Homo sapiens: one gene and its partners. The protein of the gene in region 2 interacts with the protein of the main gene of each other region in a biochemical or structural test. Each region holds a gene or a part of one and is shown on either strand. Other genes may lie near its edges.

Evidence for each region. Proteins that work in one complex are often made in the same cells at the same time.
Region 1: the proteins of RNF186 (region 2) and OTUD5 form a complex in vitro, tested with the Homo sapiens proteins (one study listed by BioGRID).
Region 3: the proteins of RNF186 (region 2) and UBE2H form a complex in vitro, tested with the Homo sapiens proteins (one study listed by BioGRID).

The regions. Positions count from the first base shown.
Region 1 is NC_000023.11:48,940,168-48,947,631, reverse strand, and holds part of OTUD5 (OTU domain-containing protein 5), read left to right. Parts: intron 1-3,348; coding exon 3,349-3,442; intron 3,443-7,464. UniProt on the Homo sapiens protein: Deubiquitinating enzyme that functions as a negative regulator of the innate immune system. Has peptidase activity towards 'Lys-48'- and 'Lys-63'-linked polyubiquitin chains. Can also cleave 'Lys-11'-linked ubiquitin chains (in vitro).
Region 2 is NC_000001.11:19,813,529-19,820,712, reverse strand, and holds RNF186 (E3 ubiquitin-protein ligase RNF186), read left to right. Parts: upstream 1-5,429; 5' UTR 5,430-5,611; coding exon 5,612-6,295; 3' UTR 6,296-6,684; downstream 6,685-7,184. UniProt on the Homo sapiens protein: E3 ubiquitin protein ligase that is part of an apoptotic signaling pathway activated by endoplasmic reticulum stress.
Region 3 is NC_000007.14:129,830,521-129,837,984, reverse strand, and holds the end of UBE2H (ubiquitin-conjugating enzyme E2 H), read left to right. Parts: intron 1-2,923; coding exon 2,924-3,048; 3' UTR 3,049-7,253; downstream 7,254-7,464. UniProt on the Homo sapiens protein: Accepts ubiquitin from the E1 complex and catalyzes its covalent attachment to other proteins. E2 ubiquitin conjugating enzyme that transfers ubiquitin to MAEA, a core component of the CTLH E3 ubiquitin-protein ligase complex.

The DNA.
Region 1 (7,464 bases), on a different chromosome or scaffold from region 2:
TCCCGGGTTCAAGCGATTCTCCTGCCTCAGCCTCCCGAGTAGCTGGGATTACAGGCATGCACCACCACACCTGGCTAATTTTGTATTTTTCAGTAGAGACGGGGTTTCTCCATGTTGGTCAGGCTGGTCTCAAACTCCCGACCTCAGGTGATCCGCCCACCTCAGCCTCCCAAAGTTCTGGGATTACAGGTGTGAACCACCGTGCCTGGCCCAATGACTGTGTTTCTTTTCTTTTCTTCTTTTTTTTGAGACAGAGTCTCACTCTGTCGCCTAGGCTAGAATACAGTGGTATGATCCCGGCTCACTGCAACTTCTGTCTCCCAGGTTCAAGCGATTCTTCTCCCTCAGCCTCCTGATTTAGCTGGGATTACAGGCATGCACCACCATGCCCAGTTAATTTTTTTTTGTATTTTTTAGTAGAAACAAGGTTTTACCATGTTGGCCAGGCTGGTCTTGAACTCTTGATCTCAAGTGATCCACCTGCCTCGGCCTCCCAAAGTGCTGGGATTACAGGCGAGAGCCACTTCGCCCAGCCTCTTTCTGTTTCACAACACCTGGCATTTACATTTTTCACAGCCTTGTTCATACCTTGTGGTGGTTACCTGTTTCCCTACCCCTCTGCTAAGTAGTTTGTGAGCTTATCAAGAGTGGAGACTAAGTCTGATTCATTTCACTGTCCTCACTGCCCAGCCCAGTATCTTACTTAGTAGCTACCTGGTAAGTCTTTCTTGAATGGATAAGTAGGAGCCCCTCTCCTGTTTGATCTCCTTTTCTCCTCTCTTTTTCCCCTCTCTCCAAAGCCAGGAAGTCGCTGTGTTCCCTTCTTTTTAAGAACCTATTCTTGTGTCAGGTTTGGGACTATAGTTGTGGTTGCACCATCCCTGCTGGAGACCCCTGGCTGGGGCAGGCCCATGACTCTGGGAGATGGCTGACCATGTGTGGCCAGGATGGACTTGGGCATAACTGGCTGGAGTGTGTTAATCCACAGGCTTGGGGGCAAGGAGGGACACCTGGACCACTGGAATGTTGTGCACAAACAGGAGTCCTTGTGCTGCGCATGGAAGCTCATTAAGGGCTTCCAGGTGTCTTTGTCATCTCTAGAAATCCAGCCACATTTTCCTGGGGTGTGGGCCCTGATGATGGGACTGGCTGGGTATTCCCTTGTCACCTCTTCCTCCCCTCCTGTCCCGCTACTCACCTGGGACTTTCTGAGGGTCTCTCAGTTGTGCATAATCTCTGTGCTGATCTCCTCCCCTTCTGTGATTGGCGACAACTTCCCCTAGTATATGGTACGTTATTTACAAAGCTTCTTTAGGTCCTGAAACTCCTCACAGCTCTGTCCGGTAGATCAACATATCCCCCATTCTATAGGAAACTGAGAGTGATAACAGACAGCAAGTGTGTGGCAAAGCTGGGGTTGGAACCCAGAGCTCTTGCGTTCCAAACCTTGTGCTTACAACTTTGCCAGAGATGCTTCTCCTCTGGCTTTCTTAGGGGATGGGTTCCACCCCTTGCTTGAGCTGGGGAAAAATGGCCTTACGGATAGGTGGGCCCCTATGTCTGGTCTCTAATACCCCAGATCCTATAAATCCCTGGGCAGGCCTGTGTCCACAAGGAGCAGGCTTGGGATCCTGTAGTTTGCAGCCTTGTTGCTAGGTCAGGCTGGCTGCTTCTGGTAGCCAGCAGAGGGCGTGAGGGGCCCAGGAAAGGTCTGCTGCTTCTGGTTGGTTTTGTTTTGAAATGAAAATTATGTTTTAAGAGGTTATATGGTCATTATTTTTTTAATTAAAAAATAGGCATTTGTACAGGTTCATTTAAGTTGAACCTTCGTGGTGCCAGGTGTGCTTTGGAATTTAGGAAAAAAACAATTTATAAAACTTACCTGGTGTGTATACTTTGTGTTACATAACACCTCCAGCAGGGTCTGAGGCAGCACCTCATAATCAAACACCTGAATGTTTTCTGCATTGAAATATTTGAATATTTACCCCAAGTGGGATAAATAGATTCTTGTCAGTTCTGGTCAGGTTATGATGCCAAATGAATTAGATAAAGACTTTTGGGCCGGGCACAGTGGCTCATGTCTGTAATCCCAGCACTTTGGGAGGCCGAGGTGGGTGGATCACGAGATCAGGAGATCGAGACCATCCTGGCTAACATGGTGAAACCCCGTCTCTACTAAAAATACAAAAAATTAGCCAGGCATGGTGGCAGGCGCCTGTAGTCCCAGCTAGTCGGGAGGCTGAGGCAGGAGAATGGCATGAACCCGGGAGGCAGAGCTTGCAGTGAGCCGAGATAGTGCCACTGCACTCCGGCCTGGGCAAAAGAGTGAGACTGCATCTCAAAAAAAAAAAAAAAAAAAAAAGACTTGATTTTCAAAGCTTTTTGGGTTTAGTGTAACTTTATAAAAGGGAAAGTGCAATAAAATCGCTGATAACACCAGGACTTAGGGATATTTTGCTGTCTAGCCTTCCCAATTTTGTGTACGTGTGTTTGTATACATACATATGTATATATGTGTAGATATCTGTTAAATGTGTTCAGTCACAGATGAGAACATTGTTTGCACACTTTTGCCTTCTAGAGTATATCTCTTTTTTTTTTTTTTGAGACAGAGTTTCGCTCTTGTTGCCCAGGCTGGAACGCAATGGGGTGATCTTAGCTCACCGCAACCTCTTACCTCCTGGGTTCGAACGATTCTCCTGCCTAAGCCTCCCATGTAGCTGGGATTACAGGCATGCACCACCACGCCTGACTACTTTTGTATTTTTATTAGAGACGGGGTTTCTCCATGTTGGTCAGGCTGGTCTCGAACTCCCGACCTCAGGTGATCCACCCACCTTGGCCTCCCAAAGTGCTGGGATTACAGGTGTGAGCCACCATGCCCGGCCTACAGCATATCTTGGAATCCTCTAGCCCTTTGTCAGGTTCAGGATCTAGGCTCTTGCTAGTTACCCCCTCTTCACCACCTTTCCTAGATGAAACTCCTTGAGGTAGAGCCACATTCTCCACCCAGGCACTTGCTGGGTCTGAGTCTCTGGCTGCCTGAGGCAGTGTGGCTCCCTGGGCCAGGCCCTGCAAGGTCAACAGAAGCCATAAGGCATATGGGGCCACTGTTCTCAGGGCACCTAGGACCCTTTTGGAAGTAAGTCTTAGTTTCACTCAGCAACTAATTCCCTAAAAGAGTCTCCTACTTCACATGCATGGAGTGGTCAAACAGGGCTGAGAACTTTACCTTGGCCAGCGTCCTCTCTGTCAATGATCTAGGCCTCTCGGGAGCTTGAGGTCGGGGCCCTGGGGAGGGAGTACAGGTTTTCCCTGTTGCTGACCCCCACCTCTTCCCTCCAGCAGGAGCATTGGTTTGAAAAGGCCCTACGAGACAAGAAGGGCTTCATCATCAAGCAGATGAAGGAGGATGGCGCCTGTCTCTTCCGGGCTGTAGGTGAGTCTCTGCCTTAGTCCTTAAGGGCCTAGGGCTGCCCCTAAGCTGTGTCCCAGTTATCAGGAATAGCCCCTGAGACAGGGTTGAGGCAGAGCTAGCTAATCTTTTAGGGACTCTAGGCTCCAGCCTCAAGTTGGTATCTGACCTCTAGCCGTGGGTCTTGAGACATTGTAGTGGTGCAAGATTAATATGCATAATAACAGCAAGAAGAATGATAAAGAAAATAATATCCTTTGGGACACATTGTCAGGTGCTACAGGAAACCTCTTTGATTCCCCTCTAAGCTAGGTGAGTGTAGGGACTACTGTTGCTTCCATTTGTCAGATGAGAAAAGTGGCTCAGAGATGGTGGGTGACTTGTCTGGAGTGAAATAATAAGTGGTAGAGTTGGGATTCAGTGTCTGGGTTAGATTAGTCTGAGGCCCATGCTCTTAACCATAGCATACTGCTGCCACCCTGGGCTGTATGACCCCTAGGTTTATACCCAGATCCCATCTCTGGTGTGTTGCGGGTCTCTGTTCCTCAATCTGTGTGTATGGGGGCTATCAGACTAGATCTTTACAAATTTCTTATATCATAGAATTTTTTTTCAACTTATATAAAAGTAGAGAGAATGATGAACCCTCATGTACCCATCATCCAGCTTCAAAATAGTCAATACGTGGCCAGCCTTGTTTCATCACTATCCCGCCCACTCTTTCTCACTCCCCTGAAAGAAGAGTATTTTTAAAGCAAAACCCCGACATTGGATCATTTCATTCATAAATATTTCTGTATGTTTCTCTGACAGATACAGACTTACTCTCTTCTTTTTAACATAATCAAAATGCCATTACTGCACCTAACAGAATTAATAATGCCTTAATACCATCTGTTATCCAGTCTGAGTTAGATCTTTGAGGCCATTTTGGCTCTGAATCTGTGACCCAACAAGTAGTTGTGAGGTCCTGTGCTAGGGTGAAGGGGAAGCTGGGAATGTGACCTGATCCTCCCTGTGGTTCTCTGATATCTACCAAGGAAAAGTGCCCTCTGATAGGAGCTTTGAGCTGGGAGTCAGAAGACCTACCTTCTAGTTCTGGCCCTGACTCATAACTGCTGTGACACTTGGCCTTGGTCTTCCCGTCTGTGAAATGGTGTTGATTCTCAATGCCTCTTTGAGTTCCTTCTTGGTCTGCTATTCTCTCCGTCTGTGGGTACCCCCCATGTCTACTGGTGGGCTGGGGTGTTTTAGGCTCCATCCCTGGCTGCACAACTGATTCTTGGTATGACCTTAGGCAAGCAGCTCTTCTTTCCTGAGGCTGTTTCCTCATCTGTAAAATGGGGCTAAAAGACCCTAATGCTGTAACGATTTAATGAAGTTGCTTTGGTAAATCCCTTTAGTGCCTGACACATATAGTAGACCCTCATGGAACAGTAGCATTTGTAAAACCCAGATGCCATTTTCACTGGTGCCTCAGAGTCACATGTGTTTGTTGAAAGGGTGGAGTGAATGGTCTCCTCTCTATTCTGCCAAGCAGAAGAGGCTCAGGCAATGGGCTCTATTGGACTGGGAAAAAACTTATCCCTCCTACCCCTCTGGCTCAAGTTTGTGTTTTCCCTGGGATGTTTCCCAGAGGAAGAGCTGGGTTTCGGGGCATCTTGGACAAAAGAAAGGCAAAGAAAGAATAGGTGGGGGCCTGTTAGGTGCTAGGCCCTGTGTTGAGACCTCAGGCTAGATGTGGGGTAAGCAGGGCTTCTGGTGGAGTTAGGATTAGAGAATGCAGCGGGCATCTGAGTCTTGGGCAGTCATTGAGGGTAAGCCTTGGGACTGGCTAGTGAGGACCTGGCTTGTGTAGTAACTCATATCAAGAGCCGTGTGTGTGTGTGTGTGTGTGTGTGTGTGTGTGTGTGTATCTAGCTAGCTGTTCTCTGTGTGTGTGTGTGTGTGTGTGTGTGTGTGTGTGTGTATGTGTGTGTGTATCTAGCTAGCTGTTCTCCCCAAATACCCCCGACCCTTGGGGCTAGCTAGTGAGGACCTGGCTTGTTGTAGTAACTCGTATCAAGAGCAGTATTTGTGTGTGTGTGTGTGTCTATATGTATCTAGCTGTTCTCCCCAAATACTCCCGACCCTTCCTCCCACTGGGGCCTTCAGTAAGGGGCCTCTACTTACAGGAAGAGCTGACCAGGGCAGGTTGAAGGCCTTTCCTTATCGGCACTATGGCTACACATTTCCCCTGACTGGGCTGCCTTTGGCTTTTCTCTGTAAAACCTCAGAAGTCCTCTGGCCTCTCCCCCGAAGTACATGGCCCTTGGTCTCTAGACCTTATCTGGAGGTTTCCTTGGTGCAGAGTGCATAATACATGTGCCTGGGAAGGGGACTTTGTCCCTGGGCTTTTTGCTGCCCCCGTTTCCAGCCTCGCCTGGATGGGGACAGATGGCAGTCAGCTTAGACTGTAGTGTGAAGCCCTACAGGCTGACTTCCTGCCATGTGTTGAATAGTGGAAGGAACGTGGAGCAGAGAGTTGGAGTTGGGCGGGGGCTGCAAACATAGAGGGCACTGTTTCCTTGACCCCTGCTGTGTGCTAGGCATTCAGCTGGGTGCTTCAGGCTCACTGCAAAACTTGGATCATTATCCCATGAGACAGGTGAAAAGATTGAAGCATAGAAAGGGAAATGACATGCTCAGGGCCATTAGCCAGAGCTGGCCTGGGAACCCAGAGGTGTCCAAAGGACACGCATTCTTTTTTTTTTTTTTTTTTTTTTTTTTTTTTTTTTTTTTGAGATGGAGTCTCCCTCTGTCGCCCAGGCTGGAATGTGCAGTGGCGTGATCTCGGCTCACTGCAACCTCTGCCTCCCGGGTTCAAGTGATTCTTCTGCCTCAGCCTCCTGAGTAGCTAGGATTACAGGCGTGCACCACCACACCTGGTTAATTTTTGTGTTTTTAGCAGAGATGGGGTTTCACCATGTTGGTCAGGCTGGTCTCAAACTCCTGACTTTGTGATCCACCCGCTTTGGCCTCCCAAAGTGTTGGGATTATAGGCATGAGCCACCGCATCCGGCCAGGACACATTCTTTTTATGATCCTAGGATCCTTAGCTTCTTAGCTTGGTTGTCAACTGGCTGGATGACCTTGGCTGTGTTCCTTGACTTCTCTGGACCTTACCTCCTCCAAGTAGGAGCACGTGGCCCTCTGTTGTTGGGAGTCTTGAGGCAGGTGGCTTTCTGCCTTCTGTTCCCCTGGATTATCTTCCTATAGGGTCCTACCATTTGCTTTAGAGACTTCTGAGAATTGCCTACTCCCCAGGTAGCTGCCTGCCTGCCATTGGTTCCCCTGAGTTAAGCAATATCCATTGCTTGCGCTCAGTTCTCTCCCACCTCCTCTTATTGGGGATTCATGAGCATCATTGAAGGCTTGGGTGGAGTGGAGGTGGGAACCTGAGCCTCAGAGGTATCCTGTGGCCCACCCTGTCCCTGTTATGCTCAGATAACCTCCTCCTGGAAACATGACTCTGCATCTCTCCCTTGCTCCCTCCCTCCATGTGGCTTTGACTCAGCAGAAACCTCTAACCCTGACCAGGGTCCTGGTGCTAGCTTCTGTGGGCAGAGTGAAGGCCACATGGTTGTTTCTACATGGGCCATGGGGGAGTGGCAAGGGCTGTGCATGTTACCACGATGAGGCCCAGAAACATTAGCTAGGCCCACTCTTCTGGGCCTTTTGGTCTTGGAACATCAGCACTAGGAGGGATGGATCTGAGATCAATTTTGATTGTTTTATAAATGGGGAAACTGAGGCCTCAAGAGAAAGCCAAGACCCTACCCTATCTAGGTCATACAACCAGTGTCAGAACATTGGTATTTGAGGTTGAACCAGGCCACAGAAAGAAGATTCCCACGGGCCATTTCCTGTACACCAGCTTCCTTCAGCCTCTCCCGTGTATCCTTCAGGTTTCTCATCCTTGCAGTGGGAATCCTTGAGCAGAGGAGCACACATCTCAGGAACCAGACTATCCAGTGGGATGAGTTCTGTCTCTCCCACTGAGGGTA
Region 2 (7,184 bases):
CGAGTTCGAGACCAACCTGGACAACATGGTGAAACACCGTCTCCACTAAAAATACAAAAAAAAATTAGCTGGGCATGGTGGCACATGCCTGTAGTCCCAGGTACTCAAGCGGCTGAGGCAGGAGAATCTCTTGAACCCGTGAGGCGGAGGTTGCAGTGAGCCAAGATTGCACCATTGCACTCCAGCCTGGGCAACAAGAGCAAAACTGCATCTCAAAAAAAAAAAAAAAAAAAGACGGAAGATTTGAGTCCAGGGAGTGAGGTCAGTAGTAGTAATGGCCCCCCTGCCCCATTCACAAGCCTCTGTCATTTCATTGGCTCCTCAGTAAGGAGACAGGGCAGGTGTCCATTTCACAGACGGAGAGAACTGAGGCCTAGAGAGGTTAAGCGACTTGGCCACTGACTGCCTGTCGGTGGTGAGTTCAGAGCTCTAGCCCAGTGAGTGCCCTCCATCTCAAAAAAAAAAAAAAAAAAGACAGTGTAGTTTTCCAACTTCCTGCAGTTTGTGCCCGAGGCATTCACTATCTCTGTTACATTGTCTTTCTCTCTATACAGTCATAATTTTCTCATTATTGTTATTTTGGTTCCAGATCCCTTTCTTCTGTCTCCTTGGCAATCTATCCTCAGACACGCAGATTCTTGGTGAGGGGTGGGGGTGGGGGTGGGGGGCTGAAAATAGGGATGGAGCCTGCCATGCTCTAAGGAGCACAGAGGCGAGAATTCTGGGACAAGAGTGTGAGCTGAGATGGTTTCCATTCAGCCCAAGGCAAGGAGGAGTGGAGAGCAACTCGGCGTTTGGCTGGGACCTGGCTCCCTGTGTTCACTGGAGTGTGGGGTGAGGGTCAGCTGATCAGGACAGAGGCCAAAGATGAGTGGACAGTTTGATCTCAGAACAGTGCTGCCACCTGACTCCTTTCTGACTTGACGGGAGGCCTAAAATTCAGATCAGACATGTTTTTGCAAAGGTACATGGGTGTGTGGTTCCTTGCACATGTGATTTCCAACATGATCTTCCTCAACTGGACTGGCTCCGGCTCCCCAGCCTGCAGCTAGGCTTGAAATTTCACCCCAACATGAGACTGTGTTTCTCACGATGGAGTGCGTATGACCCCAGGGCTGTGAGAAGCCATAAGATGGAAGAAACTGCATTTCAAATGAAAAAAGAAAAAAAAGCTTTACTCAAGATTAATGAGTTCATATTTGTACAGCAATTAAAACAAACAAATATGTTTTATTTGGAGATTTGGAAGGATTCGTGCATGCTTCGGGATTCTAATGTTGCAGTAAGCACAAATAGAACATGGAGAAGAATGTGAAACCTAGATGAATTTAACATTTTAAGTCTCCGGAGACACTTTTGAATTCCCCTGGGGTAGATCTGCTTCAGGCTCCACCTCAGACTCTGCCCATATTCACTCCTCTTCAAGAAGCATTGGCCGAATCAGTCACCAAAGTGTCTTATCTCATGTCCCTGGAAGAGATCAATTTCACCTAGGTCAGTTACAACCCAAAGTACATAAATTACTAAGCCTCCTGTGAGCAGGTTGTAGTCAGGGGTGGAGGGCTTAAATAATCCATAATTTCCTCAAGTGTTAACGTCTCCATTTTGTTTTATTTTATTTTATTTACTTTTTTTTAAATACAGAGTGTCACTCTGTCACCCAGGCTGGAGTGCAGTGGCACGATCTTGGCTCACGCAACTGCGACCTCCCAGGCTCAAGCTATCCTCCTGCCTCGGCCTCCCAAGTAGCTGGGGCTACAGGTATGCACCACCAGGCCCAGCTATTTTTTGTATTTTTAGTAGAGATAGGGTTGCACCTCATTGCCCAGGCCGGTCTCGAACTCCTGAGCTCAAGCGATCCACCCACCTCTGCTTCCCAAAGTGCTGGGATTACAGGCTTGAGTCACTGTGCCCGGCCTCCATTTTATCAAATTTTAAAACTGAACTGCAGTGAAGTTAAAATTCTTGCCCAAGGTCACATAGCTGGTAAAGTGACAGGAGCCAGATTTCCAGCTATAGTCAGTGCTGGTGATAGTTAAGGCAAGGCACTTTTGAGAAACAAAGTTGTTCCTAAGCCAAGATGGTAGGAGGAGGACAACAGGAAGGAATGCTCTGTTAACAGTGGTCATTTCTCAGGGGTTGCAGTAAGATGAACTTTCACATTCTACTTTATTTCTGTAATACTTGGGTTGTTCCAGCCAATATGTTTTCTTAACGGTGGTTGCCCAATGATGTTAAAAGGTTATTTTTTAGGCTCTAACCCCAAATAACTTCCCTTGGTCTGATTTCAACCTCACTCAGCTACCTTCTGACAATTTGATTTCCCATTAAGCTGGCTAGAGAGAGAGGCACTGGCCGGCTGGGTGAAGCGGCTCATGCCTGTAATCCTAGCATTTTGGGAGGCTGAGGCAGGTGAATCACCTGAGGTCAGGAGTTTGAGACCGATCTGGCCAACATAGTGAAAGCCCATCTCCACTAAAAATACAATATTAGCCGGGTGTGGTGGCACACGCCTGTAGTCCCAGCTACTCAGGAGGCTGAGACAAGAGAATCGCTTGAGCCCGGGAGGCAGAGGTCGCACTCCAGCCTGGGCAAGACAGAGCGAGACTCTATCTCAAAAAAAAGTGAGAGGGACACTGGCCAAGCCAACATCACTGTGTGGCCCACCTGATTTTCTATTCTTATTATAAATGAATGTGGCTCAACACATTTTTCTCCTCTCATCCCTAATCCATCCTAGGGTCTCACAAACAGAAAATAACATTATGCAATGCAAGTCCAAGCAGAGAAAACACAGAATCTCTTCTAGCATGGTAACACACAGGCATTCGGTCACTCTTGTCCGTGTACAAAGTCTGGTTGTCTCATCAATGCCTGACCCTTTGTCAGAGAGCAAGTAAAGGCTTCTTTTCTTCATCCATTGCTGTGTTACATAGAGGTCTTTCACTTGCAAGGGACAGAAGTTCAATTTGAACTGACTTAAGAATAAAAATCAGGGTAGATTTTATAGGTTAATATCCTTGAAAAAATCCAATGCTAGGTGTCCTGCTTCAGGTGTTCAAATAACATCATCAGGCCTTTGTCTGATTCTTTTCTCATTTTTCTTTTGTGCTGACCTTACTCTTGAGCAGGTTCTCTGCACACTGTGGTCCTGGCAGCCCCAGGGTTCCATCCTCTAACTTAGAAACCCAGCACAAAGAGAAACTTCTCAAGGGCTCCAACAGAAGTCTCAGAATTGAATCTCATTGGCTTGGCTTCGATTATATGCCTACGCTCAAACCAATGGCTGCAGCTAGCAGAGCAGAGCATGCTAACTGGCCTGTCCTGAATTGTATCAGGGCCCCACTTCCAGAGAGCTGGAGCCAGACATCACCCTCTCCGTGAGCACAGAATGACGGTGGGAAGCAGTGGTTGCCCAAAGTGAAAACAGAGAACTGTTACCCAAAAAAGGGGAAAGAATGCTAGGCATGGGGGAAAAAACATGCCTAGATCCAAGGCCACCTTCAGCTTGATCTGGGGGAAAACGTGATATAGATGTGTATCTATACCTTAGTATCTGAGACAGGTCTCAGTTAATTTAGAAAGTTTATTTTGCCAAGGTTGAGGACACATGTCCGTGACACAGCCTCAGGAGGTCCTGATGACATGTGCCCAAGGTGGACAGAGCACAGCTTGGTTTTATACGTTTTAGAGGGACATGAGACATCAATCAACATATGTAAAATGAACATTGGTTCCATCTGAAAAGGTGGAGCAACTTGAAGCAAAGGCAGGAAGACCTGAAGTGGGGAAGGGGCTTCCAGGTCACAGGTGGATAAGAATGGTTACATTCTTTTGAGTTTCTGATTAGCATCTCCAAAGGAGGCAATCAGATATGCATTTGTCTCAGTGAGCAGAGAGGTGACTTTGAATAGAATGGGAGGCAGGCTGGCCCTAAGCAGTTTCCAGCTTGACTTTCCCTTGTGGCTTAGTGATTTTGGGGCCCCACGATTTATTTTCCTTTCACAGAGGTAACTGATGGTCTAGCTACAGGTTGAGAAGAAATGGGATGGGATGGTGAGAGTATTGGATTTCAGAGATAGAGGGCCCAGGGGGAGTGGGGAGGTGGGAGTTACCGATCCCACAAGGGAGGGAGCCCCTTTGGGGCTGGTGACTCCAGGACACAGAGGGTGGCCTGCAGTGCCAGCTACTGGGGTAAGGGAAAGAGCTGAATCAGAGGCACAGGACTCTGTGTGGCCCTTGGCAGGTGACATGAGCACCAAAGGATCCTTCACACGGGCTTCTGAGTTCAGAGTGGCCTGAATGAAACATTTGTTTGAGGGAGTGCACATGCCACCCCGCCATTTGCCCTTGAGGGCAAAGTAAGGAAATCACGTTTTCCTAACTGCTGTGTTACTAATATCTGCCTGTCTCACATGAGTCCTCTTAGCCTACGCCACCCGGCTGGGGCCAGTTGTGTCCAAATGAACCAATGAAATTGATTCAACCAGACCTTGGACGCTGGTAGATTCCACAAGGTCCTGCTCCATGGAAGGCCCCTTGGCAGGCAGCCAGCAGCCTACCCTGACCACACCCTGCCCTTGTTTCCCAGCCTTCCCTACAAGGCTGTATCAGGGTTCCGGGAAATGGGGGCTGGGGACCCCGGGCACAGGGCTTGGCTTAGAGTAGGCCCAAATAAATGGCAGCTGTTCTTAGTACTACTGGATACGCAGCATGCCTAGCACAAAACAGGACACCTGTGATTAGGCATGTGAAGTGTGCAGCAGGGCACCGATGGGAAGTTCATACACCCGTAACTGTGAATACAACAGCTGTGGCTCTAAGGAAATGAATACAGTAGCAGGTGCCAAACACCTGTGCGCTGTATGTGGTTTTGTTTTTCTGCGTTGGGTTGGGCTTTGTCCTCCTTCCACTCACTTTTCTTACCTCTCCCCTCCTCTTTCCAAGGCCACCTGCCTGTAAATGTGCTCCAAGTGCAAACAAACTTTTTTCCACTCATCCTGACATCCAAAAGTTTGTGTCTGAGAAAGCAGTGTCCACCAATCCACCTATGTCCGACTCATAGGGCTGTCTGTTTATTGTGCAGATTTGTAGATGCCAGTGAGCCAAGATCGGGCCACTGCACTCCAACCTGAGAGAACGAGACTCCGTCTCAAAAAAAAAAAAAAAAGTTAAATAAAAAAAATTAATAAAAGGTTCAGGGACCTGGGAAGTGGGGGTGAGAGAGTTGGATTCTGCTGCCTCCTAAAGCTTGAGCCACAGTTCTGTGGGCACCCACCAGGTACCTGGCCCCAACAGGAAAGTCCTGATTCACTAGACCCTTGCCCACTTTGCCCTCCTATCAGGCAATTCAAAGTCTCCAGACCCGCAAGTTACTGATTAACCCTAGGTTTTGAGAAAATAAATAATAATAACTGAAGGGACGACGTAAGCCAAGAAACAAGCTGGGCAGCTCTGGGAGAGAGGAGTGTCAGACAGCTGTTGTCAACAGGCACCTGGCCAGAGTGAAAAGGAGGGGCAGATTCCATCCAAGTCCCAGCGGCGCCAGCTGACACTCTCTGCCAATGCCCAGGTGCTGAGCGACAGTGTCCCACCGGTCCCTGTGCCCAGAATGGCCTGCACCAAGACCCTGCAACAGTCCCAGCCCATCTCCGCAGGAGCCACCACAACCACCACCGCTGTGGCCCCTGCTGGGGGTCATTCTGGCTCCACAGAATGTGACCTGGAGTGTCTGGTGTGCCGGGAGCCCTACAGCTGTCCCCGGTTGCCCAAGCTGCTGGCCTGCCAGCATGCCTTCTGCGCCATCTGCCTGAAGCTCCTGCTGTGCGTGCAGGACAACACCTGGTCCATCACCTGCCCGCTGTGCCGCAAGGTCACCGCCGTCCCCGGGGGCCTCATCTGCAGCCTGCGCGACCATGAGGCGGTGGTGGGGCAGCTGGCCCAGCCATGCACAGAGGTATCGCTCTGTCCTCAGGGGCTGGTGGATCCTGCTGACTTGGCAGCAGGACACCCCAGCTTGGTGGGAGAGGATGGACAGGATGAAGTAAGTGCAAACCACGTGGCAGCCCGGCGCCTGGCCGCGCACCTACTCCTGCTGGCCTTGCTCATTATCCTCATCGGGCCCTTCATCTACCCGGGTGTCTTACGATGGGTGCTCACCTTCATCATCGCCCTGGCCCTGCTGATGTCCACCCTCTTCTGCTGTCTCCCCAGCACCCGGGGCAGCTGCTGGCCCTCCTCCAGGACTCTCTTCTGCAGAGAGCAGAAACACAGCCACATCTCTTCCATTGCCTGAGTGCCCTCTGATGAGGCTATCCCTGCAGCCCTTTCTGCCCTTGGGCCCCCGGACTTCCACAATGAACAGGGTAAGGGGTTACGGACTAAGACTGGCTCCTTTGGGAAATCACATGCCAGCGGGACTTGCAAGCCACAACCGAGATGGCCAGCCTGGGTCAAGAATTACACGCTTGGATGACAGGCTTGCACTTGCCCTTGGGATAGCATAGCTAAAACTGTTGGTGGCTAGGGGAGCAGACACAAACTACTTGAACATGACAAGATGGGGGAAGCTCCTGTTCCTCTTATTCCAATGTTCTTGGTTTTTCTTTATATAACTTGATGAAAGTATTGCAGTATTGATGCCATTGTAGAATAGAACTGGAATTCCATTCTTTTTGCAATTTATGTAGCTGGTTTTGTTTTCTTGTTTTCCTTTGTTTTTTTGGGTTTGGGGCAGCAGTTGGTTCACATTTCCCTTTGTTACACATTTTCCCTCCTGGGAGCTTGGAGTCCACGGGGAGGTCCCACTGCGCTTCCTCTAACACTGAGCATCTCATGCCCAGCCTAGCCTCGGCAAGTGTCCTGGTTGTTTAGGTCTCCCATGGAGTTGACCCTAGGGTTGGGGAGACAAAATGTGTGTGAAGGGATGGTGTTTCTGAAGCTGCAGGGGGAGTCCCACATTTAGCTGGCAGAGATGGGGAGGGGTGGAGAGGGCAGGGTTTGGGAATTGCTCCCAGTATCCTCACTAGGAGTTCCCCACTCCGTGCCACTAGGCCCTGACTTAGCAGCAAATCTCGGGGTTACAAGGACTGCAGTCCACATACAGTGGGGCCAGCTGCCCATCTATTGCACAGTCCCACACGGTAGAACTAGATCTTTATGGATGTTACCGTCTTTGTTATTGC
Region 3 (7,464 bases), on a different chromosome or scaffold from region 2:
TAGTTCACATATGCATTCTGTCTCAACAATTTAGCAGTAGCCCTGTTTCAGTACATGTCTGCTATAGTCCCATTTACAAAAAGAACCGAGCCTACATTTATCTTAGAATGGCTCACTCCAGCGTACGGACCCCTAGCCTTCGGAAATGTTCATGTTGGCTATCATTTTGTCTTCCTTAGTAATCTCAGAAAATCATGGCCATCAGACCTGAGCTCACCCCCACTTCCTACTGTGCCTTGATATCTTCTCCCTTCCCTCCTGCATCTTTTCTTTGTTCCTAACTATAGGAAATAAATAAGAGACACCCTTCCTCATTTCTCAAACTCACTCCCACCACCAATCTGTGATCTTGTTCCCCCAACCCCCCGCCCCCTCCCAATGCAGTCTTCCTCCTCCACCCCATCAGAGGTCTCCCTGTTTCAGGAGCAGTGATCTGCTCCTGTGGGCTCTCTTAGGAGTCATGCTGTTTATTCCTTTTCATTTTCAAACTTCTTGCGTCCTCACCTTAAACTCCTCTAGTTTTTTTCCCCTCCTCTGCTTAATCTGTGCCCTCATTTCTTCCCAATCCTTTGGACTCTTCTCAAGTCCCATTTTGCTGGACCTTTCTGCAAGTGTTACATTTTACCCTCATCTTTCTGGAAACTTCTCATTCCATTTCCTAAATGTGGTCATTCACTTAGGACTCGGTCCCTGGGCTCCCTCTCTTCCTTTGTCATCCCTGAGGAGCTGTTTCACCTCTCACAGCTTCAGTCAGTCCCCTCCAGGGAGATGATTTCTGAATGTGTGTCTAGGCCTGGCCTCTCTCCCAAGCTGCTGCTGGACATTTCCATTTGTGTGGCAGTCACCACCAACCCAACACAGCTAACACAGTCAGTGTTCATATTTAGTTGGCGCTGTATTATAGTACATGTTTGAAAAAGTGTTTAAATATTGGATAGCCCGTAGCACTGGGCACCATTGGAGCTGTCTAAAGCTGTCACTTCCCTGCTCAAAACCCTTTGCTGGGTGACATCTTTGCCTGCCATTCAGGGCTCTCTGATACTGAGTGGAATCTACATCTTTGCCCTTACTCCTTTTTTTTTTTTTTTTTTTTTTTTTTTTTTTTGAGACGGAGTCTTGCCCTGTCGCCTAGGCTGGAGTGCAGTGGTGCGATCTCGGCCCACTGCAGCCTCTGCCTCCCGGGTTCAAGTGATTCTCCTTCCTCAGCCTCCCGAGTAGCTGGGATTACAGGCATGTGCCACCACATCCAGCTAGTTTTTTGTATTTTTGTAGAGATGGGGTTTCACCATGTTGGCCAGGCTGGTCTCGAAGTCCTAACCTCAGGTGATATACCCGCCTTGGCCTCCCAAAGTGCTGGGTTTACAGGCATGAGCCGCTGCACCTGGCCATAGTTCTCTCTTAAGGTTGTGTTTAAACATCCCAGCCACTTACTTTCAACAAAACAAAGCCTTTCCCTGGAGTGGCCTCTCCTATGCCATAGCTGGCAGGACTTGGGGGTCAGTGTGGCTGGGACTGCCTCGGCCGTTTTTCGTCCGTAACTGCTTCCCTCTGGTGACACTCAGCAGCTCCTTTTATCTTCCTCTGTTTCCTCCTCCTCATTGGTGACCTTGCTCTTCCTTTCTCTCTCTCAAAGGCCTTGTCCTAGTAAGTACTTAATATACATTTGTTTCCTTGAATACATTAAAGAGGGCTGATAGTATCAAATTCTAGTGTCAAAAAAAGGTCAATATTTATCTTCTACAAAGGAAGACGCAAAATAGTCAACCCATTAGAGGTTAAAAATAAAATTGTTAAAGTTTGAATAAATATTTCTCAATTAAGGTAAATTCCTACCTAATCATGGGCTACTTTAATCTCATCAAAATCATTAGCATAAAATTTTGTTATAATGAATTTGAAGGGCTCTAAGTCTCAAGTCTGCAAACCTTTTCTGTAAAGGACCACATTGGCCAGATGTGGCCTTTATCACACATTCTGTTTATTATTTTTTAAGACAGTTTTTAAAATATAAAAACATTCTTAGCTAGGCCCTGTGCTAGTTATTCAAATCTGGTAGGCCCATTTGGCCATTCAGCTTATCTTCCTATTGCAGTGAGTCCCCGCAACTCTATAGGAGGAAAAACAAAGCCACAAGGGTGTGTTTTTGTGTGGCTTGCATTTTGAATAGGTTTCTGTCATGTCTTTTCCTATTGTGTGGAGGCTGTTCACTTGAAAACAGTATGCACTTAGAGTTTTTAGGAACAAGTTTGTTTATTCAGCAGTTCTTAAAAGCCGTTTCAGCAGTCTTATTCAGCCTAGGGTTCCACCAAGGCTGTAGCAGCGGAAATCTACCTTCAGGTAAATTATACATGGAAAAACCACTCAGAGCCGAGTGGTGTCTCCGTATAGCAGCTTAGTCCTGAGCAGATTGAGCGATGGTTTTTGCCAGCTGCTTCAAAAACCTGACAGGCAGGATCTGTTTAGACTAAAATCGATTCCTAAAATAATAGACCTGGACTGACCGTAATTATGTAACTGCAGATCTAAAAATGATGAAGGATTTCCTTATAAATTACTATGGAATCATGACTGGTCCTATACTATCTGGGAGATGAAAGTAAAAAGAAAGCGTGGGGCTCCCATTTCCCTGGTCCCTGAAGAGTTCTTGGGGTGCTGCAGCACACACATTCCCCTGCAAGCTGAGCCTGCTGTGTTGCTCTTCCCAATACCCCTTTCCTCAGGGGGCAAAATGCAGAAACCCTGTCCCAAAGAAGTCTCCCTATGGGATTCTCCTTAGCTGTAGTGATCATGATTACTGTCATCTTTGTCCCCCCTGGTGTTCAAGGTAAGTTTGAACCTCCGCAGCCTTGCCAGCTTTTTGGGGTCGCCAAAGCACATGCCTGCCCACTCACTGCCCTTGTTGTCTTTCTCCCACCCCGTGCAGAGTACATCCAGAAATACGCCACGGAGGAGGCGCTGAAAGAACAGGAAGAGGGTACCGGGGACAGCTCATCGGAGAGCTCTATGTCTGACTTTTCCGAAGATGAGGCCCAGGATATGGAGTTGTAGTAGAAAAAGCACCTGCTTTTCAGAAAGACTATTATTTCCTAACCATGAGAAGCAGACTATAATATTCATATTTAAACAAAGCAATTTTTTTTATTACTAAACAAGGTTTTTATGAATAATAGCATTGATATATATATATTATATATCACCCTTTAGATCTTGATTTCTTGGTCATTTCTCAACCTGAGGTGCATAGCATATTCCCACATTCCATTTGGTAGCAATATGCGGTCTGAATGCATGCATTCATGAGTCCATGTGGCCAAGTCAGCCTGTGTGCTACTGAACTGTCGAAGGAAATAGCCGCTCTGATAGGTAGATGTGAGTAAAAAGAACAGGAAAAAATTGCTTCTTTTATTGGTTTCCAAAGAAACAAACCAAACCAACCAGCTCTTGGATGTGAAGATAAAATAGTGCTTTTTTGAAATGGAGAGGAAAAACTTGGGGAGGAAGAGGCCTGCTGTGGGGGCATCGGAGCCAGCCATGTAAGAATCAGAGCTGCTCCTTCCTGTGAATCCTAGGTGGCCCTATGTCTTCTGTGGAGTTACAGTATAAAGCAGGGAGCTAATTAAGAGTATTAAAACTTAAAACCATTTTTTGACTCTGATTTTAAGTACATTTTTATATGTCAGTTGCTGCCCTTCACACTACCAGGCCCTGCAGCCACAGTGTTCTGTTGGAGAAACTTGGGGAAGTGTTTTCTGAACCAGTTCTTTTTCTTGGGGTAGAGCGTGAAATCCAGACCTGTTTTTGAAAGGACAGCACAGGAGGAGAAAAGTGACTGGGACGATGCTTCCTCTCATCCAAAACACATGCAGAGTCACATCCTCATCCTAGTGTTTGGCAGTTTGAGACCGCTACCCTGAACTTAAGAGCTTTAAATATGAGGGTTGTGTTTCTGGGGGGGTTATTTTTTTGGTGTGTGTGTGTGTGTATTGTGCTTAGAAAGGTTGCAGATTTCATCTTCACCTACCAAGAGGCGGCCGCCTCCTTGGACAAGCCGCTCATGGACCATTAGACTTGAGAAGACGACCCACGTGGTGACTGCAAAGCCCTGGGTACTTGCCTTCATGTTCTGGTTTGGTTTTCCCTTTTTCTGCTGCTCTTGGCAGCAGCCTGGTCATCATCTGCTTGTGGGAGTGGGAAATGGGTATTTTAGACCCAACACAGGTTCTAAATTTAAAACAAATAATAATTGGAACAAATAAAGGTTCTTGTACCCAGAGTGATTCTACATGGGAAAAACAAACCAGCTTTTTTCAGAGAGTGACCGAATAGGAAGAAGGGATTCAGAAATATGATGTAGTAGAACATGCCCTGCAGGAAGAAAATGTTTTCTCTCCTGCGTATGTTAAGAGGAAATCAGTTTAAAATGCCTGCTAATCAAATGTCGACTCAGCTAACCATATGTCCAGGTTGCTGCAGAGTTTCTTTCAAATCTGAGTGTTGCCTGCTGAACTCGGAGGGGAGTTTGGAGAAATTTTAGACAGCAGCTCTGTGTTCTTTTTTTGCCGCAGCCAATAAGATAATAGCAGAATTAGCCAATCCTAAAACCTTCTAAAGACGATTTTTGAGCATCCCACTGGGATTATTTAATTTTTCTTTTTGACGTGTGTTTTTAGTTTAGAAGTGCTGTATTCCACAAGGTTTAAGTCAGTGAGGTTGGAAGATACCCTATCTTTTTTATTCAAAAAGCACAATCAATCTTTTGTTTGAAAATCTATATAAAGTACAACTTGCTTTTAGCATGATTATTTTCCTAAATAAAAAGACAAAGAATTTACTTACTTTATGTTAATTACGGGCATGAAGCAAAAGGTTTTCTTTAAAAAAAAAAAAAAGTGCAGTGATGTAGGGCTGTGGTTAGTTAACCGTACTGAGTTATCCATCTAGCATCTGTGGCTTGCTGGAAGGGTAGTATTAACTATTTAACATGTAATGGTGTACTTCACTCTTACCTAGCACGCTGTCTTCTCATTGCTTTGGGGGAGGGAGGGTCTCTCTGCTGGCACTGTCTAACTTGCTTACCTGCTGACTTTGCAGTTTGCTTGTGCTATGACATTTATTGTAGGTGCTATTTAGGGTAGGCTTAAAGTGCTGGGTGGTGATTTGAGTTCAAACAATAAAAAATTGTATTTTTTCAATATTGTATAAACAATAGTGTTCTAATTACCTTAAAAAAAAATAATGACCAGTTAAGAATTGCTTTTGATCTTGTCAAAAAACTGAATAGACCCCAGTTTCGGGAAGGTGTGTGAGCAGTGCCATGACTCTGCCCCTTACCTAATCCCACATCTCTCTAATGATAAGACATTGGCTCGCCTCTGACCAGAGCCCCAGCACCAGAGAGCGGAAGATGCAGAATTGTCAAATGACCTGCTGGGGGAGGTTGTAGGAGTTTAGCAGATTTGAGTGTGGCTGCAGAGAGAGAGAGTGTGTGTATGTGTGCACATGTGTGAGAGTGTGAGCGAGAGTGTGTGTGTGTCCATCTAAGTGTGTGTGATGAAGGTGGGATAAGGCTCCTCTGTTAGTGCTGGAAGCTCCTGTAATTGCCGCATGGATCCCACTGTGCCCTCTTGTTCTGTGCAAGTCTGTCCTGTCTGGGCACTAACCTTGGTCCCATGCATGTTTATGTTCTGGGTGGGGCTTTGCCTCTCCACTGGGAAACTGACTTTTGCTGGGTTGAACAGAGTCCCTTATGCTTTTTGTCCTCTCCCTGCGCCTGGGAGAGGTGGGAGTAGGAGCCCAAACACACAGGTACAGAAAGATCTGGAAGAAGGCCTGGCAGTGAATCCAAGGACTCTGGGCCCCCAACAATAGATGGTAGCGTAAGTCTGGAGCAGCGGTGTTTCACCACCAAATGCCTTTCCAGGCTGCCCTTCCAACACTCAGGAGAGCATCCAGATCCCTGGGCAGAGGCTCTACATTCTTGGCTTTAGAGGTGGTGGCAGCGGCAGCAGGTCAGAGCCACTTCTGGCGGTTTCCCTCCCCTTTTTAGTGCCCATAGTTTTTGGATCCTCCCTTGAGTTTTACCAGCACAAGCCATTCTTTGCCCCTGTTCACATAACTGAGCTCAAGCTCTTGCCAAACACCAACAAGCAAGATGGTTGCAACCTGGCAACATTGAATCCACCACCCTTGGGCTCCCTCTGGAAGCCCCAGCACCGGGGGGCTTTTGGGCACAGGGTCAGTGGTAGCCATCTTAGACACTGACATTTGGCTTTGTCGTCAATTTCATCACCCTCCTTGAGGTTACTGTGCAGTTTCAACCAGCATTTTATCCTAGTGAGGTCATTATCAGGAGTTGCCATATCATCTCTCCAGTACCTAACATTTCTCATCCACTTCAAAAGCTGTTCTGACTGCCAGCTGGCTGATCTAAGCTCCTGAGGAATGTCTCCTCTCAAAGGAATTTTTCCCTCCAAAGGCCCCCTGAAGTCCTAGTTGGCATTGGCCTGGCACATGCTTTATGTTAGGCCTCCCGTTGGGATGGCTGAGAATCATGAAAGACAGATCCTCCGCTAGCCTCTGTGGGTCAAGTTTCTGGACACCAAGTCTCTGGGAACTAGTGTTTGATTTTAAATGGCATGTGGCCCTTCCTTGTTTCAGTGACTTAGAAAAGTAAAAGCCATTTAAAAAAGTTAGCAAGATTTTTTATCGACTTCCCAACTGGGCTTCCAGCCTTGTTGAATGAAATCATCTATCTCTGATTGGGCGCAACGAACTGCATTTCTTTGGACTTCTGAATCCATGTTTGTGCTTTCTCTGGCCCGTGAACACCTCGGCGATTCTGTTAGGGATGGGATGAGTGGGAGGAAGCCCTTTGAGAAGGGGGAGCCGGCCCTGTCATGCGCAGGTTTTCCACTCATCTGAGGAAGAGCCAGGGCTCTGAATTTAGCCTAACACTCATCTTGGCTGTGGGCTTGGGAAGAAATGGCCATTATTTACAGATTGTATTTGGTACATATTGTGTGATACTTGAAAAGATAAAAGGGACTGCCAGCCCCTAACTGAAATCTGAAGCTTTTTATCGCTTATTTTTCCTCGCCCTGTCTCCTCCCTTCCACCTTTCTCCTTGCATTGTGATGATCTAGTAGGCACGTCTGTCAACAGGACACATGCCTCCTCTGACTATAACCTCTTAATAGTTGTGTATAATGAAAACTGTAAACTTTTTTAAATAAACGTGTATATACCTTGGCAAATGGCTGGACCTTGATCAATAAGATAATAGCCCTCATGATTACTCTCAGCTGGTTTTCTAAAATACCCTCTCTGTTCTGGCTCCTTTGAGCAGCAGACGCTGGCTTCTTTTGGCTGAGCAGCTCTTAGAATGCAGATGACTAAATTAGTTTGGGAAGGGAGTGGCACCCTTAGGCAGTAATAACCAAGAGGCTCTGCCCAGAGGCCTGTCCT